Linked DNA regions of Homo sapiens. The protein of the gene in region 3 interacts with the protein of the main gene of each other region in a pairwise test. Each region holds a gene or a part of one and is shown on either strand. Other genes may lie near its edges.

Evidence for each region.
Region 1: the proteins of RAB3IP (region 3) and DNAJB13 interact in binary tests that used the Homo sapiens proteins (3 or more experiments, as listed by UniProt).
Region 2: the proteins of RAB3IP (region 3) and TRAPPC10 interact in binary tests that used the Homo sapiens proteins (3 or more experiments, as listed by UniProt).

The regions. Positions count from the first base shown.
Region 1 is NC_000011.10:73,960,912-73,968,488, forward strand, and holds part of DNAJB13 (dnaJ homolog subfamily B member 13), read left to right. Parts: intron 1-596; coding exon of another isoform or gene 597-817; exon of another isoform or gene 818-952; intron 953-3,966; coding exon 3,967-4,124; intron 4,125-4,133; exon of another isoform or gene 4,134-4,425; coding exon of another isoform or gene 4,426-4,494; intron 4,495-5,226; coding exon 5,227-5,340; intron 5,341-7,027; coding exon of another isoform or gene 7,028-7,060; exon of another isoform or gene 7,061-7,433; coding exon 7,434-7,547; intron 7,548-7,577. UniProt on the Homo sapiens protein: Functions as part of axonemal radial spoke complexes that play an important part in the motility of sperm and cilia.
Region 2 is NC_000021.9:44,008,289-44,015,771, forward strand, and holds the start of TRAPPC10 (trafficking protein particle complex subunit 10), read left to right. Parts: upstream 1-4,020; 5' UTR 4,021-4,205; coding exon 4,206-4,272; intron 4,273-7,483. UniProt on the Homo sapiens protein: Specific subunit of the TRAPP (transport protein particle) II complex, a highly conserved vesicle tethering complex that functions in late Golgi trafficking as a membrane tether.
Region 3 is NC_000012.12:69,734,497-69,741,947, reverse strand, and holds the start of RAB3IP (rab-3A-interacting protein isoform alpha 1), read right to left. Parts: upstream 3,089-7,451; 5' UTR 2,917-3,088; intron 2,568-2,916; exon of another isoform or gene 2,102-2,567; coding exon of another isoform or gene 2,079-2,101; intron 1-2,078. UniProt on the Homo sapiens protein: Guanine nucleotide exchange factor (GEF) which may activate RAB8A and RAB8B. Promotes the exchange of GDP to GTP, converting inactive GDP-bound Rab proteins into their active GTP-bound form.

The DNA.
Region 1 (7,577 bases), on a different chromosome or scaffold from region 3:
TTAGGGATCCATTGCAGAAGCAAATACTGTTTTAGCCACGTGAAGCAGAAAGGGGTTCAAAACAGGGAATTAGGTGCTTTAAAAAATCACCGAGGCCAGGTGTGGTGGCTCACTCCTATAATCCCAGCACTTTGGGAGGCTGAGGTGGCTGGATTGCTTGAGTGTAGGAATTCGGTGCCAACCTGGGCAACATAGCCAAACCCCATCTCTACAAAAAAATGTGCCAGGAATGGTGGTGTGTATCTGTAGTTCCAGCTACTCAGGAGGCTGAGGTGGGAGAATCGCCTGAGCCCAGGAGGTTGAGGCTGCAGTGAGCCAAGATCGGGCCACTGCACTCCAGCCTGGGTGACAGATTGAGACCTTGTCTCAAAAAAATAAAATACATAAATAAAGAAATAATCATTGAAAGGCCTGGGTGAGAAGGCTGTAAGCTGGCCCTGTAGGAAATCTTCCAAGAACACCACCTCTAAACTGGCCCACAAGGAGAGCTGCTGTCTCTGCCACAGTCACAAAGAAGGAATCAGGAAATGTCACCGTTGCATTCCAGAGCACACCATGAATGTAGCTGCAACTGCTGCCTCACTTGCCTCTGACAGGCATGAAACTCGTGGGTGGACCCACAAAGGCTGCTGCAGAAAAACCTAGTGTCTCCACAACAGTGCCCACCAGCTCCAGACAGAGCCACGGAGAGATGCCTGCCGCCTTCTTCCTGCCTCCCAAGCAGCTCAGGAACTACCTGATGAACAGAATTCAAAGCCAGAACCTTAGCTGCAAGAGAGTCTGGGGGATGTTCCTTTTGGCTCTACAGATTCTCTAGCAGGGAAGGTATGCAAGAAGGAGGACAGAGCAGATGCCAAGTGCCAGCATGGCTACCATGGATGTTTTATAATTTATTATTATTAAAGTCTTGCTCTGTTGCCCAGGCTGGAGTGCAGTGGCACAATCTTGGCTCACTGCAACCTCTGCCTCCTGGGTTCAAGCGATTCTCCTGCCTCAGCCACCCGAGTAGCTGGGATTACAGGTGGGCACCAGAATGCCTGGCTAATTTTTGTATTTTGAGTAGAGATGGGGTTTCCACTCAAGACTGGCCAGGCTGGTTTTGAACTCCTGACCTCAGGTGATCCGCCTGCGTCATCCTCCCAAAGTGCTGGGATTATAGGCATGAGCCACCATGCCAGGTCTAATTTATTATTTTTAATTACTGTCTTATTGATGGGTAGTTTCTTCCCAGTCTTTTGCTAATATTGTATTTGTGGGAAGATACCTCTTGTCTCTTTTGCAGTTAAAACAGTTCTTGTGCTATTTATAGTTTCCCTAATATGCTTGTCTCCCTACCAGACTGGGAGATCCTCCAGGTCTGATTGATCTCAGCGTAGCCAAATCCCAGCCTAGCATCTGACAAGAGTGAGTGTGGATGGGTGGATGCATGAAATGAAGGAAGGACAGATGGATGAATGGATGAGTGGGTGTATGAATGAATAGACGAGCACATGGTGGGTGGGTGGGTGGGTAGGCGGACGGATGGCTGGGTAAATGAATGGATGGCTGGGTAGGCGGATGGATGGCTGGGTAGGCGGAAGGATGGCTGAGTAGGTGGATGGGTGCGTGATTCCAGGTCTGAGACAAACTGACCAAGAGTTGATTTCTGAGGCTCAGAATCATCTTGCAAAGGCAGTGAAAAGACCTTCACACCTGACTTCCTGGCTCCAGTTATACCCACATAAGGCCTAGATTTTTCACTGCCTGTTTTCTCCTACACCTCTTGCCCCTTCTCCCTGACTATACTTCAGCCTTTCTGAACTTCATAAGTTCTTTCCTTCTCTTTTCTGTGCCAATATGTGGGTTACAGCCCCTCTGCCTCAGAGATTGCTCCCACCTTGTGCCACCCTCACGTGTCTGCCAGAAGAAGCTGAGTTTATAAGCTCCACGTGAGACTGAAAACAGCAAGGGGCTTCGAGTAGCGGGCCTGTTTCCAATCCATGCGCTGCCATTTGTGAACCGTGTGATCCTGGGAAAATTTCTTCACCCCTCTGAAACCCCAGCTTCCTAACCATTACATAGCCAAAATAATCATTAAGGCTCAAGGGCTATTATCAGATGAGATAATGTTTATGAAAAGGGGCTTTGCAATCGGCCGGGCATGGTGGCTCACACCTGTAATCCCAGCACTTCAGGAGGCTGAGGCCGGCGGATCACTTGAGGTCGGCAGTTCAAGACCAGCCTGACCACCATGGAGAAAACCCATCTCTACTAAAAACAAACAAACAAACAAAAACAAAAAAACAAAGCCAGGCACAGTGGTGCATGCCTGCAATCCCAGCCACTTAGGAGGCTGAGGTAGGAGAATCGCTTGAACCGAGGAGGTGGAGGTTGTGGTGAGCCGAGATTGCGCCATTGCACTCCAGCCTGGGCAACAAGATTGAGACTCTGTCTCAAAAAAAAAAAAGAAAAAAGAAAAAAAATGAAAGGGGCTTTGCAGTCCAAAAATGCCATACAGTGGACCTTGCCTCCCTACCTGTCTCAGTTCAAAGGAGCCAAGTGAGTCTACAGGGCATCGCTCATTGGGAAAGGTCAGGCTCAGGGTCTGGGCTTCCTCAGGCAGTGCCCAGAAGCTATACTGCCATAGTGCTCCACCCCAAGGGTTCCTGAGTCCCATCTCCCTGCAGGGTTGAGGGGCTGGGCTTCCTGTGGACTGGCTATTGGGGTGTTTACTGCCTGGTACACTGTAGGTCTGGGTGAACAAGTGAATTCAGCAATGCAACAGGAGGACCAGAAGATTCAGGCCTCTTGATTGCCCATCGCATCTTAGAGGGACATAGTGTAGTCACCTCACCATCCCTGCCTAAGGTCATTTCACCATTCTAGCCTGTGAAGTTCATTCCATGGCATTAACCATGAGAGGCAGAATATGAAAACTCTTAACCATAGCGCCCCTCGAGTTTACAGCTTATGAGGGGCTTCCACATCTAGCGATGCGGCGTGGCACAGTGGTTAAGGACACAGGTTCCGTAGTCATATTGTCCTGTGGTTCAGATCCCAACTCTACTGCTTACTAGCTACGGGACCTTAAGCGTTTTGTTTGGGCTCCCTGGACCAATGAAATAATAATGTAAGGTTCCAAAAATAGCACCTGACGCATAGTAAGCTCTCAGCAAGTTTTAGCTCTTCATCTTAATGGTGGAAGGCAGGTCAGGCATTATTACCCCATCCCACAGACCAAGACACTGAAGCCCACGGATCACACAGCACATCAGGGGCAGAGCCAGGATGGGGCTGTCTTTGCACTGGGAGGAAGGATGGGGGCAGCAAGAGGGGTTATGGGTGCAGAGCTGGGCAGGGGCAAAAGAAATTGAGGAAAGAGGAGTTTGGGGAATGCCGGTGGCCTCTCAAATTGTTAGGGACCAACCCTTTCCCTCCCCCATCTCAGCTGACAGCTTTATAGAAACTTGAGTCTGGGGTCTTTAGCAATCTTGGGCTGGGCTGGACAGCGAAGGGTTATGGAGTCTGGGGAAGAGTAGAGAGGACTGGCAGGCTCTCACCTTCCTGCCGAGGACTACCAGCAGTCTCTTCTGGCACTCCTGAGCGCGGCCACCAGAGGGAGTGCCTCCCTTTCCTGAGACAGCCAGAGTTACGGTATCCGAGTTGTGAATAAGAGAGACGGGGAAGCGTTGGGCGGGGTGGGGGGGGAATGTCCCAAGGGGAGGTGAAGCAGTGGGAAATGGCAAAGGATGATAATCACTGCATCTGCAGTTGAAGACAGCTCCTTGGCTTGGCCAGTCTGAGAGGTGGTTATAGGATGCTGGGTGTTACACAGGACACTGAAGAGGTTGGGGAGCATATCTGGATAGGGAGGCTGTGTGTGTGTGTGTGTGTGTGTGTGTGTGTGTGTGTGTGTGTGTGTGCGCGCGCGCGCATGTCTGGGTCTCTGGATACAATTTCTCTTACTCCTCTCCCTACCTCCTGCAGAGTTTTTTGATGCAGAAGGAAGTGAGGTAGATTTGAACTTTGGGGGGCTCCAGGGCCGAGGGGTCAAGAAGCAGGACCCCCAAGTCGAACGGGATCTCTACCTGTCCCTGGAGGACTTATTCTTTGGCTGCACCAAAAAAATTAAGATCTCCAGAAGGGTGAGTACTCAGCTTGCTCCTCCCGGGAGCCACCTATCTCCTGCAGCCTAGCAGCTGCCTCCTCCCTTACCTGGGTGGGAGGACTCAGGGATGGTCTCTGATGGAATTATGGAACCTTAGATTCAGAGACCTAGGATGTTAGAATTCCGGAATCTGAAATTCGGAAGGGACAGTTGAAGACATTAGCCCGGTTCTTTCCTAGTGCAGGAGTGCCCTCTGCAGCCTTCCCAACTGGGACAGGCTCTTTCCCTTCCTTTCTTTCAGTTCAGCCCCATCCCCGTGGGAACTGGAAAGGCTCTGAATGGGAGGAGTCTCTTCTGAATTCTTCCTTCTGGGCTTTACCAGACCATATTCCCAGGATTTCATCAGGGTGCATGCCTCGTGCATAAGAAAGAACAGTGGGCATGGAGGGTGGGCTGGGAGATAGTCCCCAAGGTGACGGGTTGAGGAAGACCCTCAGTGCCTCATGTCTAGTCCTTGGCTTGGCCCTGTCCCATGGCCCAGCCCTGTGCCAGGCATAAGAGCAAGCCCCCTCCACCTTTGCCCAGCAGAGGAGATGCCGATGCGGCCATGCTTTCCACAGATGGAACCCATCTGGACATGCGACTGGGGAGTGGAAGGATCCCCAGTGGGGAATGCACTGGGGGAGGCTTAGATATGTTGACTTTCATTTCTCTCTTTGGGATTAAGAGACTTGCTGGAGGCTCAGGGCCGGGCCTCTGGGATTTGGAGAGAGGAATGGAGTACATTTTCACCATGTATCTGTTAGTGGCCAGGGCTGGAGCTGTGTGTTTGATCAACTAATGGTGACTGCTTGGCATCTCAGCCCCCAGCCCCAGTCTCATGGCATCCTCTGCCATACTGGAATCATAAGTTCTTGGTTGTCATGGCAACAGGATGGGAGTGGGAGTGGCTCAGGGCAGGCTCTCCCCATTGCTGGAGGCTCTTCCCATTGCTAGAGGATTGAGCCCAAGTACAAATCCCATAGAGCATCTTTCACGTGTGCAAAGGTCACCTGAGTGTTCATGAAAATCTGAGCAAATCTCGACTGTACTCATGGAAGTCCTAAGCAGACCTCCCCACACCTGATATGTTGCTATAGGTGCTGAACGAGGATGGGTACTCCTCCACCATCAAGGACAAGATCCTGACCATTGATGTGAAGCCCGGTTGGAGGCAGGGCACACGCATCACCTTTGAGAAGGAAGGGGACCAGGTGAGGGGGGAAGAAGCTGACTCAGGTCAGTCACTGAGCTCAGGCGGTGGGAAGACTGAGGAGGAAAGGAAGGGAAAGGAGGCAATACTTTTTCCTGCCCCTGTGAGCCTTGGTCTGTAGAGAGCCCAGTCTGCAGAGTGGGTGAGATGGGATCCCTAATGTTCCTTCCAAGGAACAGAGCCTTAGCCTTACAGTGCTTCTGTGAACAGGCAGCCCAGGGACTGTCCCCATTTTACAGAGTGGGAAATGGGGGCCCAGAGAAGAAAGGGACTTGCCCAGGGCAAGAACATGGGAGCTGAAAGGAGATCCCAGTCTGAACTCCAGTGTTTTCCTGATTTTCTTCAGTGCTTCTCAGAATAAAGCCCAATTACAGGAGCTACTCAGAAACCATTTAATCATAATAATTTTATTTATTTATGTATTTATTTATTTATTTATTTTTATTTTGAGATGGAGTCTCACTGTCGCCCAGGCTGGAGTGAGGTGGCATGATTTCAGCTCATTGCAGCCTCCACCTCCTGGATTCAAGCAATTATCCTGCCCCAGCCTCCTGAGTAGCTGGGACTACAGGCATGTGCCACCACGCCCAGCTAATTTTTTTTTTTTTTTTTTTTTTTTTGAGACAGAGTCTCGCTCTGTTACCCAGGCTGGAAGGCAGTGGTGCGATCTCAGCTCACTGCAAACTCCGCCTCCCGGGTTCAAGTTATTCTGCTGCCTCAGCTTCCCCAGTAGCTGGGATTGCAGGCATGCACCACCACACCCGACTAATTTTTGTATTTTTAGTAGAGACGGGGTTTCACCATGTTGGCCAGGCTGGTCTTGAACTCCTGACCTCAGGTGATCCACCTGTCTCGGCCTCCCAAAGTGCTGGGATTACAGGCGTGAGCCACTGCGCCCAGCCACCCAGCTAATTTTTGTATTTTTATAGAGATAGGGTTTCTCCGTGTTGGCCAGACTGGCCTCGAAATCCTGACCTCAGGTGATACGCCTGCCTCGGCCTCCCAAAGTGCCTGGGATTAAAGGTGTGAGCCACCGTGCCTGGCCTATTAATAATAATTTTAAATTAAATACTATTTAAATAAAAACATAAATTTATTGTCCAAGGCGTGCTGAATCCTTAAGTCCTGAGAAGAGGCATTCAGAGCCAGGGAAGACACATTCCTTTGCCTGCACTTTTTGCCCCCTTTCTCACCTATGAAACATCTACCTCCGGTCTGGCCTGGTGGCTCACACTTATAGCCTCAGCACTTTGGGAGGCCAAGGCAGGAGAATCACTTGAGCTCAGAAGTTTGAGACCAGTCTGGGCAACATAGCGAGACCTTGTCTCTACTAAAAATAAAAAATTTAGCTGGGCATGGTAGTGTGTGCCTGTGGTCCCAGATACTCAGGAGACTGAGGCAGGAGGATCTTTTGAGCCGAGGAGGTCAAGGCTGCAGTGAAGTATGATCATGCCACTGCACTTCAGCCTGGGCAACAGAGCGAGATCCTGTCTAAAAACAAAACAAACAGACAAAATACAAATAAAACATCTACTTCGAATAAACACGCTTCAAAACCCAGCTCCAGTGTTCCCCGCTCTGGGCAGCCTCCTCTGAGCCCCAGCCTCTGGGCCTCCCTTTATCATGTCTTGAGCGTGCTGAGGATTCACTGTCAGTGTTAGGGGCCAGTCTGATTCCTCTGTCCCCAGCGCCCAGAAGAGACCTCAGCAGAGTTTTGGTGACTTAATGAAGTTTGGGACAGGGGTGTCATGCCTGGAGTTACTAGCAAGACAGAGACATACGGGCAGTTGCCTGACGCCCAGCTTAGTGTTCCACCTGCCTGCCGTCTGAGGAAGCCTCTCCGCCCCTCCAGCTGAGTGTGTCTATTTTGGGCATGCTCAGTACAGAAGTAATTCTGGGGGGATTCATTTGGGTAAGCTTCTCGGGCTTCTAATCCATCTGGGCTATGGGGGCCAAACTGAAAAGGCCCTTCCAGAAAACCTGCTCTCATCTCCCCATTGTACAGATGAAGACATGGAGACAAGTAGAGGCAGGAACTTGGCCAAGGTCACACGGCCAACTAGTCCTTGTCACCTTTTGGCGTCCCCTGCCCAGGGCCCCAACATCATCCCAGCAGACATCATTTTCATCGTAAAGGAGAAGCTACACCCTCGCTTCCGCAGGGAGAATGACAACCTCTTCTTCGTGAACCCCATCCCTCTTGGCAAGGTGAGTGGGCAAAGTGCAGGAGCAGCGGGG
Region 2 (7,483 bases), on a different chromosome or scaffold from region 3:
ATGATATGCCTGCATGTAATTTTCTTTGTATGTGTTCTCTTCAGGTTTTGCTGAATTTCTTGATCTGTAAATCAGTATTTTTCACCACGTGTTTGGATTTGGAGCCATCATTTTGCAAAAATGTTTCCTTCCTAGACTCATACTCTCCTTCTGGAGCTCCGATCACACATGCTTTTGGCCATTTCATACTGTCCCATAGGTCTCTGAGGTTCTCTCCACTTTTCTTCAACTTTTTTCTCTTCTTCAGATTAAATAATTTCTATCCATCTGCCTTCAAGATCCCAAACTCCTGTTTTCTCCAATCTGTTAATCCAATTCAGTGAAATTTTCATTTCTGTTATTGTACTTTTCAGTTCTAGACTTTTCTTTTGATTCTTTTAGATACTTTGTTATTCTGCTGTGAATTTCTGATTCTTTACTCATTAAGACAATATTTTCATTTAATCCTTTGGACATATTATTTTTATTTATTTTGAGATGGAGTCTTGCTCTGTCACCCAGGCTGGAGTGCAGTGGCACTATCTTGGCTCACTGTAACCTCCACCTCCCGGATTCAAGCGATTCTCCTGCTTCAGCTTTCCGAGTAGCTGGGGCTACAGGCGTGCGCCACCACACCCAGCTAATTTTTGTGTTTTTAGTAGAGATGGGGTTTCACCATGTTGGCCAGGCTGATCTCAAACTCCTGGGCTCAAGTGATCTGCCCACCTCGGCCTCCCAAATTTCTGGGATTACAGGTGTGAGCCACCGTGCCCAGCCTCCTTTGGACATATGTAGAGCTGCTTTAGAATCTTTGTAAATACAGAATCTGGTTCATTGTAGGGGGATTGGTTTCTGTTAACTGCTTTTTTTTTTTCTTAACTATGGCTTACGTTTTCCTCTTTCTTTGTATGTTTAGTGATTTTTGTTTTTTTAGTGTATATTCAACACTGATAAATAACAAATGAGGGAGACTCAGGGTGCTCTTCCACTGAAAAATCCTGACTTTCGTTCTAGTTTGTAGTTCCATTACTGGACGTACCATGCTGGGCTGTGTAGGCTTAGCTTTAGGCTCTGTTTACTGAGCAATGTCCCAGGTGTCTCCCAGGCCCCTCTTACTTGGCAGGACTTAACCTCCAAACTCTGACCGTCTTGTGGATCGGGTCAGGGTTTTGCTTTAGACGTTGTTAAGGCGGGCCTGGAGTAGTCCTTATTCTAGGGGAGGGACTGGCAACCTCTGGCTCACAAGCCACATGTGTTGATGGCCTGTTTTTGTACAGCACTTAAAGCCAGGAATGGCTTTTATATTTTTAAAGAGTTGTTTAAAAAAAAAAAAAAAACAAGCAAAAATATGAAACAAAAACTGCATGTGGCCCACACAACCTAAAATACTTATCTGGGCCCTTTATAGGTCGTTTGCTGACCCCTGGGAATGTGATTCTCAATCTAGTGTCTCAGCTCAATGTCCTCAGTGTTAATGGCATTAAAAAGGTCTTGACTGGGCACGGTGGCTCGTACTCGTCATCCCAGCACTTTGGGAGGATTAGGCAGGAGGACTGCTTGAGGCCAGGAGTTCAAGACCAGCCTGGGCAACAGAGTGGGACCCTCTCTCTACAAAAAAAGAAAAAATTAGCCGGGCGTGGTGGCACTCACCTGTGGTCCCAACTACTTGGGAGGCTGAGGTGGGAGGATCACTTGAGCCCAGAAGTTCTAGGCTGCACTGAGATAACGATCAAACCACTGCACCCCAGCCTAGGTGACAGAACAAGACTGTCTGAAAAGAAAACAAAACGGAAAGTCCTTTCCTGTAGCACTACTGGACCTCTAGTCTTTGTGCCATCCTCAACTCTGTAACAGCCGCTTCCTGGTAAACCCATAGAGTCGTCCCACACGTGTAGTCCAGCCTAGGCCAAGGACTTTCAGGGAACCCTACATCGACTTCGGCTCCCCACTCTTGCTAAGCTTCTTCCCCTCCAGTGCCCTGCCTTGCCGGCCTGCTGCTTTAGCTGCCCAGAAGTCTGGTCTCTTGCCTCTCACACCATTACAGTGCACCACACTACACTATGTTCACACATTTAGCAGCTGTGTTCACACCCAAACTATCTCATATATACATTTTGTTAAAAAAAACTTCAGGACTCTCTAAACTTATGATGCCAAGGGTGAAGTTAAGCCCTGGAGACTGAGTCAGTAGCAAGTTTGCAATTCTGCTTCTTCGATTACAGTTTAATGCTCTTCCTCCTTGTTCTTGAGCACAAGTGTCTTCCTCATTGTGGCTGCTCTGTAAATCAGGGCTCCCCGACCGCCAGGGCCACAGACACATACCGGTCAGGCCACACAGCAGGAGGTGAGCTTCAGGCCAGGGAGCAAAGCTTCATCTGTATTTACAGCTGCTCCCCATCGCTGGCATTACCGCCTGAGCTCCGCCTCCTGTCAGGTCAGCAGCAGCGCTGGATTCTCCTAGGAGGGTGAACCCTGTTGTGAACTGCACATTGGAGGGGTCTAGGTTGCGTGCTCCTTATGAGAATCTCATCCCTAATGATGTGTCCCTGGCTTCCATCATCCCTAGATGTGACCGTCCAGTTGCAGGAAAACAAGCTCAGGGCTCCCACTGATTCCACATTATGGGAAGTTGTATTTTATTACATATTACAACATAAAAATAATAAAGTGCACAATAAATGAAATGTGTTTGAATCGTCCTGAAACCACCCCAACTTTGTCTGTGGAAAAACTGCATTCTATGAAACTGGTCCCTGGTGCCAAAAAGGTTGGGGACTGCTGCTGTTAATGACTAAGAAAGACCAGGTCTCCCCCTTCCCATTTGGTGATTTTTGTTACAGATTAGCTGTCTCCATTGTCCTGTACCTGACTTAGACCAGACAGCACAGAGACCCCAGGACTGTTTCATCTTCAGTGGGTCCCCAAAGAAAAAGACCACCTCGACTAAACAGACTGTTGTAACTATGCATTAGGCCTTATACAGAAAAGACGCTGAAATTCGGTTAGGCTTCCCGAGACGCTGGCTATAGAAACGACCCCAAATTTCTACGTTTGAGAACACTGACTTCCATTCTTTATAATGTTTCCTGGGCGCCTCAAGCTTCGCATTTGACTAAACTCTAGATTCTGACCCTTTTGATTATTTTTGGTTGACAGTTTTTGTCATTTTATGGCTGGGAGTGATGGCTCACACCTGTAATCTCAACACTTTGGGAGGCCAAGGCTGGAGGATCACTTGAGCCCAGGAGTTTGAAACCAGCCTGGAAAACATAGTGAGATCCCGACAAAAGAAAAGAAAAGAAAAAAATTAGCTGGGCGTGGTGGCTGCCCCCGTGGTCCCAGTTACTGGCGGAGGGGGTGGGGCGGGGGGAAACAAGGCGGGAGGATCGCTTGAGCCTGGAAGGTGGAGGCTGCAGTGAGCCGTGTCCCGCCACTGCACTCCAGCCTGAGCCAACTGAGGAAGACCCTGCTCCAAAGAAAAAAAGAAAAAGAAACACCCGCGCCCCGCCCCCCCCGTTTACGTGCACAAGAAGCCCATATGCAGTTAAGTGTGAGGTTTATTTTGTGGCATTCCGAAATGCCGAGGGCCAGGTCCCCACAAAAACATTTGCGGCGTGAGGGAAACGGGAAGAGCCCAGCGGTAGGCGGAAGGCACGCGCCGGGGACACTCAGCGGCGAGGGCCTGCGGGAGCCCCCAGCGCGATAAGGAGCCCGGCCGGGGAGCAGCGGCCCGCCGCGGGACGCCCGAGCTGCGGGGAACGCGAGGGCAGCGAGGCCGGCGTCTCTGGTCCGGGAGCGTCCAGGCTCGCTCACCGCGCGCGAGGCCCGCCTGCCGAGTCCTGGCCTCAGCTCCGGCGCAGGGCCCAGCGGGGCGCCCACTGCCGAGGGAGGAAGATGGACGTGTCCCGGGAGCCCCGCTCCGCCTCCCACTTCCCACCTCCCGGTCCCGCGCGGCCGGCCCGGGCGCACTTCCGTCGGAGGCGAAGCGCGGCGAAGACCCGCCCCGTGAAGCCTCGCGCGCCCCGGAAATGGTCATGCGGCGGCGCCGAGGCCGGAAGTGGCTGAGGCCGGCAGCAGCGGGCGGCAGCTGCGGCGCAACCGGCTCCGGAGCTGCCTGGCGCGGCCGGGCGGGCGGCGCCGCTCAGGCTCGGGCTCCGGCTGGGCCCGGCGCGGCCTCGGGGCTGCCCATGGGGCGCGGGGGGCCGGGCCGGTGACGCCGGACGCCCATGGACGCCTCTGAGGAGCCGCTGCCGCCGGTGATCTACACCATGGAGAACAAGCCCATCGTCACCTGTGAGTGCCCGGAGGCGGGGAGGGCGCGGCGGTCGTTGGGCGGGCCCGGGCCCTGGCGTTATGCACCCGGCGCCCCCAGACCTTCAGCCCCCGGCGCGCTCCGGGCTGGGCCGCTTCCTGGAGGTGTGACCAGGGCTGCGGCTGAGGCGGGGCCCTCTGACTTTTCGGGGACGCCCTCTGACCTTCCCGCCGGGCGACCTCTGACCCCTGGGGGGCGCCCTCGGGCCGGCTGCAGTTGGAGCCGGTGGAACCCGGCGGACTCTGCCCGGGACTGGGCGCGCGCCGGCGTCGAGGGCGAGGAGCGGGGGCTGCCACCGCCCCGTCCCGCCCCCGTTGAGCCGCGCGCCCGGGACCTGGGGGCCCCGGCCTCTTCCGCCGGGCGGTTTTGCCCGCGGGCGCCCTTTCCCCGACTACGGGGAAGTCCTTGGGGGCTCGCAGAGTTGCAGGCGTTGGCGAAGTAGGAACAGTTTGTTGCGGGGTGAAGCGTCAGGCAGAGCCGCCGGGACTGCTTTCGCTCCTACACACTTCCCCGCCGCGCACTCAAACCATTTTACGGATGAGAAAGCCGAGGCTCGGGCGCTTAGGCGAGCTTGCTCCCCATGAACAGCCTCCCGCTCGAGTCTACACTACGGACACCTGGTGCCTCTTGGGTGTCGTGTCCTCCCCGCACCCCTCCTTTAATGCATACACAAAGGAACTGTTTTTCTGTTACGGGAAAAATGTTCCCTAAATTTTAGAAGTGTGACTCTCCAGAGTTAAATACGGTTAAGAACAGTGAGCTTATGGGAAGTATTGAAATGTTTGTTGGTTGGCTTTTAGGTGACTTGCAGAGAGGTGTTTCAGACTGTTACGATTTTTGACCTTTGACAGTATTCTGTATTTTCATGCATGTATGCAGTTAGTTTTTTTCTAGTTGTCTTTCGTGCTTGGAAAGGAAGCACTCTCTGTTGCAAAATCTGGGTGCCCAGGCCACAGTAGACTGTATGTCGTGAGAACTCCTGTTTCCCTCTCACTCTGTCAGCGGGTGTGCACCTGCTGTGTTCCTTCCTGTTAGATCCCTGAGAAACTGTATATTGAAGGTTGAATTTTGTTGCTTCAGCTTTAGGTGATAGACTTATTTCTTTCCTTCCTTTTGCTTTATTTTGTCTCTTCTCCTCTCCTCCTCTCTCTTTTTTTTCTACAGAGACCTAGACGAGATGATAGACTTTTCTTAGGGAAGTGGACTGTGTCTCATTTAAAATTGGAGACTTGCATAGTTCAGCAGTAGCTGTCTTTTTTCCTCCCCAGAATATTTGTCAGCTGAAAGTCTTTTCCTACTCTGCACCTTCAGCCCCAGAGGGCAGATGTGGGTAGAGCTGGTCTGCAGGCCCTGCAATTTCCCAGGGGCTTTCCCAGTGCTCAGGGAAGATGAAGCCATGCGCAGTTCATGTTAAGTTTTACTGTCTTCCAGAGGTTGAACATTTTTCTCCTAAAGTGCTGTGCACGTTGTGAATGCTGGATACACATTCATTGCCTGTACGGACATCCACACATCTAATTTTATCTTCTACCTCCTAGCTTGCTTACATTTCAATAGCAATATGTATTTATAGGCATTATGTAAATACATTTCTGAGGAGAAAGTTCCTAAGCTCTATTGGATTCAACCATAACTAAAGGGGTAAAGTTTGTTATCTGGTTGCCAGTGTTGGAGATATTTAATGTTTAGTTTTGTACATGCGTGCATCACGGACAGCTGAAGGATGCGGTTTTCTTTCCTACAGATTTATTGGATTGTCATCTTGGTGGTGGGTTTTTTCCTGTGTTTTGAGCAGCAGAGTGAATTTTTTTTTTTCCTTCTTCTTCTTTTTTGAGACGGCGTCTTTCTCTGTCGCCCAGGCTGGAGTGCAGTGGCATGATCTCGGCCATGATCTTGGCTCACTGCAACCTCTGCCTCCCGGGTTCAAGCGATTCTCCTTCCTCGGCCTCCCGAGTAGCTGGGATTACAGGCGCATGCTGCCATGCCCGGCTAATTTTTTGTTTGTTTGTTTTTGTTTTTTTTTTTTTTCAGTAGAGACAGAGTTTCACCATGTTGGTGAGGCTGGTCTCGAACTCCTGACCTTGGGTTGTCCACCTGCGCAGCCTCCCGAAGTGCTGGGATTACAGGCTTGAGCCCCCACCCTTGGCCTCAAGCAACATAGTGAATGTTAATCTCTGCATGGATGGTACACTGTCCTAGAAGGTGCAAACTTTCATTCATTGGAGTCTCAGAAGAGAAGGGGGCTTCAGTAGACTGTCAAAGTTAACTTGAAAAATGATCACTTTAAAAGTGAAGGTAAAAAGCTGACTTCATACTTCCCACTTGAAATTATGTTGTGGTATATCTGGGACTGAAGCTTTAGGAAGCACTTGGCCTGGTTTCACTTTATGCCTTCATCTTGCTCCTCTCTTTCAGCTATACATGTTTTGAAAGGAGAAGGTGGTATGAACAATTGCTTTAAAAAAATCCACCCAGAGGCTAATTAACCCTTAACTTTTTAATATTATGTACATAGTTCTCTTAGTAGGCAACATTTTTGTTTTCAAAAATCTTTTAAATTCTTACTTGAAATGGTATTACCTCAGATCTGTTCATTTTAAAATGAAAGTAGAGTTTATGCATGTTGTGAATTTTTTTTCCATAGAATGTATAATATTTTACTTCAGTGAAAATGCATTCTGCTTAGACCTTTCTGGGAAGAATATAGAATGTAACTGGTTCAGGTGAATTTAAAAACTGTGTATATGTAGGGATAGAAGAATGAAAAGTTCCCAAAGATTAAGGGTAATTAGAATAGATTATTACTTTAAAACCTAGCTGATTATTTCACTTCATTTTATTATTATTATTTTTTTAGAGATGGGGTCTCGCTCTGTCACCTAGGCTAGAGTGCAGTGGCATGGTCATAGCCGACTGCAGCCTTGCTGGGCTCAAGTGACCCCTCCCTTAGCCTGCCAAGTAGCCAGCACTACAGGTATGACCCACCTCACCTGGCCTGAATTATTTTAATAATATTTTGAAGCTCTCCAAATTTTTTTTTTTTTTTTCTGTCTGAGACAGAGTCTTGTTCTCTTGCCCAGGCTGGAGTGCAGTGGCGCGATCTCGGCTCACTGCAACTTCTGCCTCCCGGGTTCAGTCGATTCTCCTGCCTCAGCCTCCCAAGTAGCTGGGATTACAGGCGTACACCACCAT
Region 3 (7,451 bases):
ATCTCTGGTGACACAATGAGAATTACATATTACATTAACATTACGTATCTCATAAAAGCTAAATTACAAAGTTCTTCAGCATTATAAGCTACACATAAAGAAGTGATAATGTAGTGATTATGAGCAAACAATTCTTTAGCATTACCACTTATACATGAAGAAATGACAGAGTGTAGTGGTTAAGAGCACAGACATGGAAGACAAACTGTCTGACATCTAATCTAGACCTGTCACTTAATTAACTATGTGACGTTGAGCAAACTACATAAGGTCTCAGGGTCTCAATTTTCTCAACTACAAAATAGGGATAAAGTATTATCTCCTCGCTCACTCTGAGAGTAAATGAGTATAAAGCTTACACCAGGACTTCGCTTGATAAGCACTAGACTTAAAAGTAACTGTAGTAGCAATGCTGGTATCACCGTCTTCAGAAAACTTGGATATTTTTAAACCAGAAATACAAATGGTAACACTTGTCATCTGTGTGCCTCCTTATAGTTACAAAGCTCTTTAATAGAAGGTGCAGACCAGGAATGTAAGAAACAAAAGCACTACGTTCCATTTTGGGCAGTCGGATACAGTTTTTAATACCGGCTCTGTCACTGGCCAGCTGTACGACCACCTACAACTAAGTAACCATAGACAAATTATCGCAACTTTCTAAGCCTCCATTTCCTGACTTGTAAAATTTGATAAACCACCTATATCCCGGGAATGTCCAGAGGACTGAGGAGTCAAGGTATCGAAAACAAGCACACACAGTGCCTTGCACACAATCAAGCTCACACTGGTTCCTTCTCCCCTTCCCCACATCTCTAATGGAGTATGTTATTAAATCCTCATCTTACCATTATGAAGTTCATATTAGGTTGAAACATAAAAAACAGCAGAATATTAGCAATTTCAACCTAATAGTATTTCCACTGACAAATGGAGAAAATAAGCTCAAACAGGTTAAATGTTTTACTCAAGGTTTTATGCACAGTAAGTGATGGAGCTGAACATTAAATAATTTTTCATTCAGCCAGCTCACTAATTTGTTCACTGACTCCTGTTGAGGAGGAAAAAAGTATAGTAACTACTATAATGCATATAAAACTACTGTAATCTACAAAGTATTTTTTCGTGCCATATTTAAAAAATGAGGGGGTGAAACATTTCTAAGAACCTTTCCATTTTAAAAATTATTTGTAGAGGATGTGTGTGTTGGGGGAGGATGAGAGTTTAGACAAAATCAAAGGTAAAGAATATTAAAGGAAACATATGGATAACTGCACTAATTCAAAAAGTACAATAGGATCTATTCAGAAATCCCACAAAGCAGCTAAACATTAAATGGCCATCCTGGTGAAAGATTACAAGTATTCAGTACCACAGATGAGTTGTTTACCAAACACAGAAGGAAGAGTTGTATCAAACACTTTGGTTCACAAAGGTATACATTAATATGTAACATTACTGTAATGGAAAAAAATGCAATGGCTTTTCATTTAATAGTTAAAAAATGGACTACTTAATTGTATAACTGTTTATTTCTATAAATTCCACAAGGGCTTTAGGATTAGATCACATAAGCCGCATCTGGAATACACTGTCTGTCCAAACATGAAAAGTCCTATCAAAATGCACAGTACTAGTAAATAAATAACAAATGATAACAGAACAAGGCCCCATAAAACTGGTGAAATATTTAACAGTATCAAATATTTACTACGATTGGTCTACAACCCTATTCTGCCTCTTTTCTCCTTGATTTGTCATTCAGCACTGGAAGAAAAAAAAACCTTCATGAACAACAAAATGAGAAAAAGGATAATGAACAAGAACTGGGTCTTTCAACTGATTTACAATGGAACAGTTTTGTTGTAATCCTCTTATGGGCCCCTCCTCCAATTATGCAATCATTCCACTGCAAGAGATTACAAGGCTTTTAACCCGACACTGAACGGAAGGAGTTGGGGTGAAACAGGAGAGTGTATAACAGGTAGCCTCCGAACAGGCAACATTTCCATGAAACTAAATTGCCTCTCAGTAATCAGTACTAACTAACTCAGCGCTCGTGTCTTTCAAGACCTTACCCTTTCATCTTTTTTAATCCCATAACAACCGGCAACTCTTCACATGCTGCGACTTCCACCCAGCATCATCACTTCTGGAGCCAGTAAGCTCGCGCTTCCTGGGCGGTCGGGGCGAGTTGTCAACGCTGGGAGGGCAGAGCCATGCAATCCCACCCGTGCAGTTCGTCTCAACTCCCCCGAACACAAGTCTGGCGGCACGGAGCTGCCTACTTGGGCGCGACTCCGGGCGCCTGCCCGGAATTTCCCACCAGGTTTCACCGAAACCTCCCGAGGGTGACCTCTACGCCTCAGCACGGTGCCTCGCGCGTAGTTTCCTAAGACTGGGACACGAAACCACCCCAGGTCCACAGCCCTGCCGCGCGGCGTCCGGTGTTGTGAGCTGCTTCCGACTTGTTCGGGAACTCTCTCTTCATCCTCTTCGCGACCGCGGCCCTCCGCTCCCGGCCGCGCCCGCCCGCCGCCAGGTAACCCGCTGGACTCGGGCTCCCTGCCCCGGGCGCGCGGGACCGCGCAGTTAATGTGTAACGCGCCCGTGCCCGGGGGAGGAGCCGCCGCCCGACGCCCACCAGCAGCCCAGGGGGCGGCCGGCTGACCCGGGTCGCCAAAGTCCCCCCCACACGCCGCCCCCAAGGGCCCGGAGCCCAAGTGCCCAGGCGGAGAGCGAGCTCACCGGGCCTGGGCATCCCCCCGAACCCCCGCGTGCCGCGCCCTGCACGGCGCCAGCACCTGCACCTGCCGCGGCCGCCCCTCCTGGCCGACTCGCCAGAGGCGGGCGCGCGGGCGCCGAGGGGGGCGGTGCTCTACGCTCCGGGCCTCTCCCTCCCGCGGCCGCACTCACCTGAAGAACCCACCGCGGCCGCTGCCGGCGCTCAGGGGCGCTCACAGAGCCGCAGAGAGCGCGTCCCGAAGCAGCGAGAAACGGAGGAGGACGGCGAGCCCTTTCCGCTACACTCCACGGCGGCGGGCTCACTACGCCGGCAGCCGCCGAGGGAACGCGGGACTGCGCCTGCGCCGGAAGCGGGGCCGGGGGCCGGGAGCCGGGAGCGGCCGGTCCTCACGGAGGGAGGGCGGGGTAGGGGGGTGTGGCCGGCAGGGGCGGGGCGAGCCCGGCATGGGGCCTGGGGGCGGACGCGCTTCCGCGCCCCCTGGCGCCAGGCGGGGCTCGTCGCAGGTGTCACGGCCCTGGCCCGAGGTTCCTCCGCGGGCGGTTTCCCTGGGAACCAGCGCGAGCCGGAGCTGCGCTCTGTTTCGTCGGGCCCGCGCTCTGTTTCGTCGGGCCCGCGCTCTGTTTCGCCGGGCCCGAGAGGCGGCCTCAGGTTAACTTCAAGCATGTTGGGCTCTCCAGGAGGGAGAAGAGGCACCTTTGCCGTGGGTTGAGGACTCCTAGAACCAACCTGAGACTCCGCGGCCATATACACCTTACGACGTGTGTGTGTGTGGCGGGAGATGGGAGGGGAGGAATCCTGTAGAACCCAGATCCCATCATTCCAGCAACTGCCAGAGCGTTCGAGAATGTCATGTCTGTACCTGTCTTCTCTCATCTTTTGTGCCAACTGTTTTATCAAACTTCTACCCCACTTTAGGTCTTCCAGGTAGGAAAAATACAGAAAGAGCCAAGATCCCAAAAATCAAAAAAAAATAATAATAATAGAGGTAGTCATAGTATGTGTCTCTATGTTTAGCAAAAGAGAAACGTGCATTTGTGTGATACACTTATTGAATAGGACCATCATTCTGGGTATTAATCTCATCTATTAGAGGCAGTAAAGAAAAGTAGACTATATGTATGGTTGTTGGAGTCAGAATTACTGGGCTTGAGCCTGCCACCTGCTAGCTGAGTGACCTTAGGCAAATGAATCTCTCTAGCCCCAATTTTCTCATCAGTGAATGAGTATACAGAACCTGCCTCACTGAGTCATTAAGAGTTTAAATGGCTTAATTCATGTAAACACTTTGCGTACTTCATGACACAGAGTGCCTAATAAATATTAGCTATTGTTATTATACCATTATAACTATTATCATGCATCTGTAATCCAGAAACCTAGAAAGCCAGTGTTTCTTATTTTATACCCCATCGCCAATATATCACCAAGTCTTATTCATCCTAATTTCTAAATAATTCTTAAATCTATCTTATCTGATATTCATTGCCACTAGAAATGACCTTTCTCATTAATGGATTCCTATTCTCCCTTACACCTCATAGCTGGTCATTTATTCATCAGACATTTTATTGCACTCCATCTGTGTGCCTCCTGTTAGACATAGGGACAGAGAAACCATTACAAAGTCCCCACCATCCACGGACTCAAACATATATAGGGAGACAAGTATGTCAATAGTAGCTACGTGAAATGAATAAATTAAATATACAGCAAACCACTTAGGCTCCCCAGTCTTGCCGTACTCACATACAACCCTGTATTTCCATATGCTGTTTATTTTTATGTCTTGATCTCCTACCTTTTCCTTGCCTTGCTAATTATTTGTTATTCATTATTTAGCCTAGACATCAATTCCACTGTGAACCCTTCCCTATTGTTGGCCACTCAGCCCTATCCCAGCCACTCCAGTATGGGCTAAGTGCCCCTACCAGGGCTTCCATAACACCGTATCTCTTTGTAACACTTATCACATAGAGTTATAATTGTATCTGTATTTCTCCATTTTCCTGGACTGCGAGCTTCTTGAGAACAGGCACAAGGTCTGACATGCAGTAGGACTGACTCAGTAAATGCAGAATGAGTGAATGGCATGCATGCAGAGTGCAGTCTTGGTATGTGAATGTTTAGAGGACAAGTCCTATGATATATTCTACATAAGACCTAAGACATCATGATCTATAGGAAATAGTAAGCAGTAACCATATATGCCTGAGTCCTGCGTTGGTCCATTTACAAATCACCTACCATCCATGAGGCTTTTTGAAATATACTGAAAGATGTTCCTCTTGAATACTTAACCTGTTAGCGCTGTTTGAGAAGAGTGATATAGATTGTTACCTATAATAATACTTCAGTGTTCTTGCAGCACAGAGACCAAGATACATTACAGAATATTAGACACTCAGAATCTCAGCCTACAAAGTATGTAAAGGGCTGTGAGCATCTTAAGTTTGATAGCTTACCCATATATAAAAAGGACAGCTATTTCACAAAATTTAAAAATGTGAAAGATTTGGATGGGCACGGTGGCTCATGCCTGTAATCCCAGCACTTTGGGAAGCCAAGGTGGGCAGATCCTTGAGGTAAGGAGTTCGAGACCAGCCTGGCCAACGTGGTGAATCCCCATCTCTACCAAAAAAAAAAAAAAAAATCAGCTGTGCATGGTGGCACACACCTGTAGTCCCAGCTACTTGGAAGGCTGAGGTGGGAGAATCACTTGAACCCGGGAGGCGGAGGCTGCAGTGAGCCGAAATCACGCCACTGCACTCCAGCCTGGGCGACAGAGTGACACCCTGTCTCAAAAGAACAAAACAAAAGGCCGCACGCGGTGGCTCACACCTGTAATCACAGCACTTTGGGAGGCTGAGGTGGGCAGATCACCTGAGGTCAGGAGTTCAAGACTAGTCTGGCCAACATGGTGAAACCCCATTTCTACCAAAAACATAAAAAATTAGTCGGGCATGGTGGCTGGCACCTGTAATCCCAGCTACTCGGGAGGCTGAGGCAGGAGAATCACTTGAACCTTGAATCACTTGAACTCGGGAGGCAGAGGTTGCAGTGAGCCGATCGCGCCATTGCACTCCAGCCTGGGTGACAAGAGTGAGACTCCATCTCAAAAAAAAAAAAAAAAGAGTGAAAGATTTTATAGTGTGCTCAAGGTTGCCTTTTTCTCTTTATTTTTTTCTCTTTATTTTTTAAAAATGTAAATTATACAATTAGTGTCAAATATAACGTATAAAATAATATTGCTTTTTTTTTATCTTAAGACTTTCTCATTTATACCTTGGGCCAGAAAAAAAGCAGATGAGTGCAAATATATAGACATTGTAAATTGAACAAACCATTCTAAGGTTGTTACCCTTAGTTATAACTTTTATTACTTGTTTGCCTCTGTTTTGTTTTCAGAGTTAAGAAAATGTATTTTCATGGTATTTTCCAGTTGCAAACTGACTTCATGTTAATGATTACATGAGTCTTGTACAAAAAACAATTTGATGCAGGTGGAAAGGTAGTTATTCTTCATTTTTGTGGATGGGGAGCTTAGGCCACCAGAGTTAGGGCCCTGGTGTTTGGAATGCAGGTTAATATCTTATAAACGAATGAAGTGAAAACATATTGAACTTTTGTGTCCAGTAGTATGGCAGACTAGAGGCTCTGGCTGATTCTCAAACCCAAAGCAATATATATAAATATATATAAAACATCTTATCAAGCATATCAAAGAGTTGGCAAGAATATAAGAAACCCTGAAGGGCAAAAACTAGGTGTAAGTGAGAACTCAGACTGGTAAATAGTAACAATGCAAAAATGAAATGGAAAAAAAAGACAGTTATGGGAAAAATGTACCAAAAGTAATTAATCTATCATTTCCTTGTCTGCCAAAATAGTCAGTGAGTGCCAGTGCTTGTGTTCTCATAAAAACTGACTTTTGCAACTCCTGTAAAAAAGCAGAGCAATCTCAAAAGTGTCTGTCATGATATTAATTATGGACAATCCTGTATTTCAGGCCCCCTTTCTGATGTTGGAATAAGTGACTGGGAAAAATTGGAAAGCTGAGAGAAAGGGTTTAAGAGAGAGCTTAGACTCTAAAAAGTATGATTCCCCCCTTCAAAAGAATCACTTTAACAAGCTACATATATATAACAAAACGTTTTGAGAATTGACTTTAGATCCAGTTTATCACACACACAAATTGCCATCCATCAAACAAATATTTATTTGTAGCTTCTCTGTGACAACTGTGTAAATAATTTTCAGTAAGAAGGAAGAGAAGGAGAGATGAGACACAGTGAGAGGGCTTCCTGGCCTCCCCTTACTTTTTAATTCCAGCTATCGCTCTATTACTGAGGCTTCCTTCATCCCTTCCCATAGGTTCTGTGAGAAATCCTTCTGTCCTTAAAATAATTCTCCCTTTTTTGCTTTACATAGCTTTGAATGATTCCTATTACTGCCACCAGAAAATTATCCTAAACTATATATTTTCATACAGGGATTGATTTCTGTAGCAGTTAAAAAGCTCAAAGTAACAGTAGCTTAAAGAAAATAAAATGTATTACTCTCACATCAGTGTAGGTGACTCTCTAATCAGCAGATCCATGGGCTCCTTCCATCATGTGGCTTTACCATCCTGAAATGCAGCTTCTACCTTATGATCCATCATGGCTGTTCAAGTTCCTTATATCCTTTTTCCAGCAAGCATAAAGGA